Linked DNA regions of Homo sapiens. The protein of the gene in region 1 interacts with the protein of each later gene in a pairwise test. Each region holds a gene or a part of one and is shown on either strand. Other genes may lie near its edges. The genes, in order: FHOD1 and BBS4.

Region 1 (3,815 bases):
GCCTCAGAGCGTAAGGCCCGGCCCACCTCGTAGAGCACAAGCTGCGTGCGCAGGTCGACGTCAGTGCCCGCAGTGCCCAGGTGGCGCTGGACCAGCGCTTCCATGCCCTGCTGCTCCAGTGCATCCGTCACATCGTAGAAGGAGTCCTGGTCCGGGAGCGCCGCCAGCGTCTGGAGGGCGGGGATAAGAAGGCAAGGCTGAGGTTGGTGGGGAGGTCAGGAGCCTGAGCATCCCAGAGCTGGCACCCAGTCCTTGGCCACACCTTGTTGATGAGGGTGACCGTGTACACCAACAACTCAGGGTCAGCGCCATTCTTCTCCTCCAGGATGGACACCAGATTGGCCCAGGGAGGAGCACCTGCCACACAGAAAGTGGAGCAGTCATGGGGGAACAGGTAGGAGAGAGGGCTCTGAGCGGTGGGGGGAGAAAGGGACAGTCTCTGACCGGTGGTGCTGGCCACAGAGTTCACTGCACGGATGAACAGCGGTGCGTTGTTTTCGGAGTATTCTACAAACACCAACAGCAGCTTCAGGGCTGTCTTCACCACCAAGCGGGACTGAGGAGAGAGGTCAGTACATATGAGTGGGGCTTAGGCCAGACCTGTGCCAGCTGTTGCTGGGGAAGGGGAAGGGCTGCTGGGGCTGGACCCAGAGAGAATCTAGGCAGAATGACCCTGGCCCCAGGCCCAGGCACTGAAGTGCCTTATAGGCTTACAGAGGCCTCAGACTCACTCCCTTCCAGCTCACTTTGCAGAACAGGAAACTGAGGCCCAGAGAGAAGCAACAGGCAAAGGGTATAAGGCTGAGTGGAGAGCCACTTACCAGGCTGGCACACAATGTGTACAGCCACTGAATAGTGTCACTGTGGGCCACCACCCCCAGCATTCCATCCACAAAGAGCATCAGCTGGCCGAGCGCTGGGGAAACAGGGATGGGCAGAGTCAGCGAGGGTCGCTGGAGCAGAGGTCATGGGAGAGGGGCGGGGCTGACCTCTAAGGATGTAGCTCTGGTAGTTGTGGTCGGCAGCAGCACCCACACGGATCAGGCAGCTCAGCCCCTCTGAATGCACAAATTCAGGCACCAGGTCTTTGTCCTCCTAGAGGCACCATGGGGGAGTTTAGGGAAGCTTGGGCTACACACTTACCCCCAGCCCACTGCGGGGCCTCACCTGGAAGATCTGCTTCAGTGAGAAGAGGGAGCGGCGGAGCTCAGGACCACTGGAGCTATACAGCTTTTCTGCAAAAGGTAGGGTATAAAACCCTTGATGGACACAGACTCACTGTCTTCCTCTGCTTGGATACAACCACAACTCTCCACCAAAGAATAGTCTAATATATATGTTTTGGTCTGAGAGACAGGGTCTCACTCTGTCACTCAGGCTGGAGTGTGGAGTGCAGTGGCACAGTCATAGCTCACTGCAACCTCAAACTCCTAGCCTCAAGCAATTCTCCCACCTTGACCTCTCAAAGCACTGGCATTGGAGGCATGAGCTACCACGCCTGGTCTATTCTAACATTCTTGAATCCCCCTCCACTCCCACCATGGCCCTGGAAGAAGAGGTCAGGATAGGGAGAGGAAGGAGCACATACAGCTAAACCTACTTTGCTCACTGTTCAGCACAGGCCTGAAGGTGAGCCAACTGGGCTATGGGGAGGAGGTGCTGCTGGACATGGATGCTCTCACACACTCACCCAAGATAGCGTTGACCCTCACAGAGAGCTGGGTCCGAAGGATCAGCGTGGGCTTCCGCCCTTTGCTGGAATCAAGGATCTCTGTTAGCAGCTCCCAGCCTATCCCTCAGCATTCCTCCCCACAAGCCAAGGGAGCCAAAGACCTCCCCATGCCAGCCCCAGCCCAGCTTGTTCCTCCCAGCTGCTCCTCCAAGAACCCAAGGGTTGGTCGGACAAGAGGGTTGGTGCAAACACATGTATCTCAGGTATGTGGGAGAGCCCCTAACTCCCACCTTGGGCAGCAGGTAACACTGGCCAGGCTTTAGAATTCCCCTGGCACACTTCCCTGGGGCAGGAGGTGACCCATGGCTCAGGCTAGTGATCGAGTGTCTCAGCTGCTGACATTTGAGCTAGCCCCTGGCAAGGGTGGGGGTAACCTTGCCTCCCTGGCCCCATCAGTTCTGACCTGATCTCTTCATAGAAGCCCTCCAGCATCTCCCGCTGCTCTTCCAGGGACAGCTCGGTGTCCAGGTAGTATCCGGAGGGAGACACTTGCAGAGCACAATCCTCCAACTGGGGGCAAAGGGAACAGCTGTGAGACTGAGGAAGAGGTGGCAGGCGAATGTATGAAGACCCCTGACCTCTTACCTACCACTTGAAGGGTGGCAGAGAGACACAGGGTCTGCACTACAGCTGTGCATTCCTTCAGCAGTTGCTTCTCAAGCACCTACTATGTGCAAAGCCCATCTGTGTCAGGCACCAGGCTTTCTTGGCCTTTGTTTGTACCATCTCCTCTCCTGGCTGATACCTACCTATTCTTTAGGTTGCTATGCAACCCACTCCACCCTGTGTGTATGCTCCCTTTCGAGACCTTCCACACAGCATTCTAATATCCGAGCCACTGGTCTCCTCTAGCTGCGTTCTCTGCGTTCAGGCACTCCGTCTGTCTTGCTCCCTGCTGTATCTATAGAGCCTGGCATAGCACCTGACACACAGTAAGCACTCACTAGGACTTGTTGAGCTAATAAACACAGATGAGGAAGGGGAATGGAGAGAAGATGGGAGGAAGTTCCTGCCTTCGAGGAAGCTCACAGCCCTGTGGGGTGATAAGCTATAGTCACAAAGCATTAAGCCCCAGAAAGAAAGTGTTAAGATGGCTGGGAGGTGCAAACCCACCCGGGAGAGTGTGTCTGTGTGTGTGTGTGTCTCAGTGAGTAAGAGGGTGAAGACAGGGTCTGATCCATAGACTTCCCAGTCCCACCAGATTTCAGGGTCTTTGGCCTCTCCCAAAGTGGGCTACAGTTACAATGGTCCTAGCTGGACCTCAGAGACACCCAAGGGGCCTATTAAAAAACTAACTTTAGGCCAGGCGTGGTGGCTCACGCCTGTAATCTCAGCACTTTGGGAGGCTGAGGAGGGTGGATCGCCTAAGGTCAGGAGTTCTAGACCAGCCTGGCCAACGTGGTGAAACCCCGTCTCTACAAAAATGCAAAAATTAGCCAGGCATGATGGCGGGTGCCTGTAATCCCAGCTACTGCTGGGGAGGCTGAGGCAGGAGAATTGCTTGAATCCAGGAGGCAGACATTGCAGTGAGCCGAGATCATGTCATTGCACTCTAGCCTGGGAGACAGAGTGAGACTCTGTCTCAAAAAACAAAACAAAACAAAACACTTAAGAGTCTGACTCAGTCTACAGTAGGACCCCAAAGCCTGCCTTTGTAACAAGCAGGCACATGCTCCATCCACGTGTCCATGTTTCCCTCCCCGGGCTCTCCTCCCCCGCCACAAGGCATGGCACTTAGCCCCTTGAGAAGTGCCTGTAGAGAAGCCTGAGGGAGGTGACTCCTGTGAGTCGGAGGGTGGCACTCTACCTCTCCCAGACACCTCCCTCCATTGCACAGTGCAGATATGCAGGTTCAGCAAAGTCTCCTTGACTTAAGTGGCTCTGGCCCTTGAGATGCCTTGGCCCAGGGAGAGCCCACCTCTGGAGAGGCAGGGTGTCTTCTGGTCTCCATCTTACTGGGCATGTCAATTCCAACATTTGTCCTGCTGTTTGGTCAGCCCTGCCCTCTTCTGGACCCTGCCCAAGGGCTTCCAACTGGCCTTGGTCCCCTGGAGAAAAAGGGAGTCCAGCTCCTGCCTCAACC
Region 2 (3,815 bases), on another chromosome or scaffold:
TCTGCCTCCCTAGAATGCAGATATGATGCTGGATGCAGCAGTCTTCTTGTAACCATGAGGAAAAACTCTCAGTCTTGACATCCTAGGACCACCAAATCAATGCCAGCAACTACTTACCTGGACATCTTGTTTCATGAGAATTAAAAAAAAAAACAAAAACGAATTTGTAAAGCCAATGTTTAGTCAAATTTTCTGTTGCATTTACACACAATCCTCAATTGACACAAAGAGAAGGGGAGGGGAAAAATAAAGAACTACTCAAAGGCCCTGACCCAAAGAAAGGCAAGGGTCTTCAGAATGAAAGAGTCAATTGAATGTCACACAGATGGGGACGGGAAAAAGACATGAAACACAACTAGATGCCTATTGCTGATACTGTGGAATTCCAATGACGAAAAAAATACCCAAAGCTTCTAGGGGTCATCAACAAGAATCAGACTGGTAAGAGACTGCTCGTCAGCAAACTGCTAGAAAATCATGCAGCAATGCCTGCAAAGTTATGAGGAAACATGGTTTTTGATCCTATACTTATACAAATCATGAATTAAGTATGAGGTTAAAATCAAGACATTTTTGGAATGTAAGAATTCAGAAATAAGACAGCCAGATGATAAATGGAACCATTAGCAAGTTTACTAATAAGAAAGAACTGAAAGTTCTCTACTTACCCAATCTTTCTGGTTGAGTTTAGCTGCTTCATTATATACTTCAATGGCAGCTTTATGTTTTCCCAAAAGAAATCTGTAAAAGATATATTTTCCATAATTATTACCTCAAAATTCTTAGAAGACTAACCCTACTAGTCCCACATTTTAATCATATTTCATCCAGCAGAGAATTCTAGAAGCCTTTTCTCTATGAGGTGGTTGTGCTGGTTTGGTCAGTGAAGCTGCTATACACTAACAGCAGAAGCTCTCTTAGTAGGGATTGCACTGGCAGCTGTTCCAAGGCCTTGGTCTCATTCTATACCAATTTTAGTGAGAGTCTTGTGGAATTTTTCTTCTACAATGTACTATAAATGCAGACCAAAAAAGAAATAAGCCTAATGATATACCATGTTAAGCAGTAACTACCATCATTTATCATCACCCATTAGGGACACATCCTTTCCTTCCAAGACTAAGTCTCTTTCCTTGATATTGGATCCTGAGTTTAGAGAGAAACAGGGAAAACCAAGCTCTATGCAAAAACAACACAGGTATGAATGGCAATGTGGCTAAGAAAGGGGAGATAGGAACTCCATGGAACAAAGGACTGAAAAGGGAGTACCTAGTAGTTTATAAACACTTGAGATTCTTTCCATCTAGGAATCTTTAGGACATTCACTCAACAAATAGAGATGCTCCTCAACTTATGATGGGGTTACATCCCAGTAAACCCATTGTAAATTGAAAACACTGTAATTCAAAAATGCATGTAATACATCTACTCTACCAGACATCATAGATAGCCTAGCCTATCTTAAGCATGCTCAGAACACTTACTCTGTTCCATGGAGTTCCTATCTCCACTTTCTTAACTACATTTGCTGACAGTTAGGCAAAACCATCTAACACAATGCCAACTTTATAATAAAATGCTGAATATCTCATGTAATTTACTGAATACTATACTGAAAATGAAAAACGGAATGGCTGTATGGATACTTGAAGTACAGTTTCTACTGAATACATAACAATTTTACATCATTGTAAAGTTGAAAAATTATGTAAGTTGAACCATCAGAAGTCAGGAACTCTCTGTCCTTACTAAAAACTTACTGTGTGACAAATACTAAGTGTTAGAAGAGTAGATGAGAAAAATTCCAAGGATTGCCAATAAGTTTAGAAGACTTAGGGTACAAGGTGTCTCTATTTACATGATAAACAATATTGGTCCCCCATCAAACTAGAATGCACAGTGTTTAAAATGCTTAGTTCCTTAACACTAGTTATCTCATTTTCTCAAATTTCAAACTTAATCCATGCTCTTCAGAGTGAATCCCACTGTACCTATTAAACCATTCCCCCACTTGTGTATCAGGCTGATGCAGCTGCCAGCAGCAGGCTGGACCTAGGAATGCATTTTACACTGTTCTCTGTGAGTGCCCTAGGGCCTCCAGGTTGCCAATACTCACAAAGATCTGGCCACCTGCTTGAGGTTATCAGCACTCTGAGGACTAAGAACTGCACATGTCTGGAAGAGTTCTAGGGATTCTTGGATATTTCCTTCTAGGCGAAATATCAATGCTGCCAAGAAACAGAAAATACAAAAAAAAGTAAAACCATGTTCTGGGAAGAATGGAGCCTGGGGTCAGAAAAATTGGAGAAGAGAAAACTGGGAAACCACATCAAGTAAATCCTTTGGACAACTGTATCCTTAAAACAATCAGATATGGCTTTGGACAGGCTGAAACAACAACCAAAACTGCTGACAAGCTCAACTGTCTTTTAGCAAGGTAGCTCAAACCTACCTACTTCTCTCTCTACTCCCAGGATCCATCACATAGATAATCAGTTCCTTTGCAAATTATCACACAAACTCTTCACATTAACAACATTTTGGGGCTTCCCCATCAGATGCTTCATTTATCATAATTTACTTCCAACTGATAGTTTTCAGAGCGAACCCCCAAATGGGGCAAATGGAATCAATACCTCAAATTCAACATGGAGATTCTGGCAAAGGATAAAGTAACATTTAAGACTTCAGTTGTCAGTGTAACAACCAATTAGAACCAGAGGTTTTTCCTAGGCCTATGTTTCCAGAAGAATTTATCAGGCACTGAAAGTCTGATACTTGTGACACTGGGAATAAGAGCATTTTTTGCCATGATGTCCTAAATTTGTCAATATCTTAACAATTATGTCAGAAAATTATATGTTAATCTGAAGACTACAAATGCAATGAATGGTAAACAAAACCATTTATTTACACCCAAGAGTCAAAAAGAAAGTTCCTGGAAAAACTAAGAATGCTACTTATGCCACTAAAGAGGAAAATTTAAGTCAGTGGGCCAGGTGCAGTGGTTCATGCCTGTAATCCCAGCACTTTGGTAGGCCAAGGCAGGTGGATCACCTGAGGTCAGGAGTTCGAGACCAGCCTGGCCAATATGGCAAAACCTTGTCTCTACTAAAAATACAAAAACTAGCTGGACATGGTGGCATGTGCCTGTAATCCCAGCTAATAGGGGGGCTGAGGCAGGAGGATCGCTTGAACCTGGAAGGCAGAGGTTGCAGTGAGCTGGGATCGCACCACTGCACTCCAGCCTGGGCAACAGAGCAAGACTCTGTCTCAAAAAAAAAAAAAAAAAAAAAAAGTAAGTGAGTGGTCCTTATCTTTGGTTTCTAATGAGCTGAATTTATGCTCTGCTTTATCTTGTTTATTTCCAGGCTTCTTCCCCTCATCCTGATTCACCTTACAGAAATCCTCAAGCTCTTCTTCATCTCTTTTAGCTTGATTACAAGCAATCCTTCCAAAAGCATCTTTTGGCCCTGAAATCACTGCATTAGGCAGGAATCCTAAGCATCCATTCCAAAAAACACTAGCCAGAAACTAAAAAATGGGTAATCATAGCAATTTTTTAACATTACTAGTCATTTCTGAAGTCAAATCCAACACAGTAATTATATTCAGATTCCATAAAAAGATTAATACTGAATAAAACCTTTCTGGAACATTTAAACTCATGCACCTGTAATGACATTTTGGTCGACAGCTGTATAAATGATGATGATCACTTAAGATTATAATGAAGAGGAAAAATTCCTATTGCCCAGTGACGTCATAGCAATCAAAACAGTGCAATGCATTACTTACCTATCTGTAGTGATGCT

Evidence for each region.
Region 2: the proteins of FHOD1 (region 1) and BBS4 interact in a two-hybrid assay, tested with the Homo sapiens proteins (one study listed by BioGRID and IntAct).

Annotation. Positions count from the first base shown.
Region 1 is NC_000016.10:67,237,213-67,241,027, forward strand, and holds part of FHOD1 (FH1/FH2 domain-containing protein 1), read right to left. Parts: intron 2,243-3,815; coding exon 2,136-2,242; intron 1,756-2,135; coding exon 1,691-1,755; intron 1,674-1,690; exon of another isoform or gene 1,601-1,673; intron 1,236-1,600; coding exon 1,168-1,235; intron 1,096-1,167; coding exon 990-1,095; intron 917-989; coding exon 822-916; intron 557-821; coding exon 445-556; intron 358-444; coding exon 263-357; intron 171-262; coding exon 27-170; intron 1-26. UniProt on the Homo sapiens protein: Required for the assembly of F-actin structures, such as stress fibers. Depends on the Rho-ROCK cascade for its activity. Contributes to the coordination of microtubules with actin fibers and plays a role in cell elongation.
Region 2 is NC_000015.10:72,713,704-72,717,518, reverse strand, and holds part of BBS4 (BBSome complex member BBS4), read right to left. Parts: intron 2,229-3,815; coding exon 2,117-2,228; intron 742-2,116; coding exon 669-741; intron 1-668.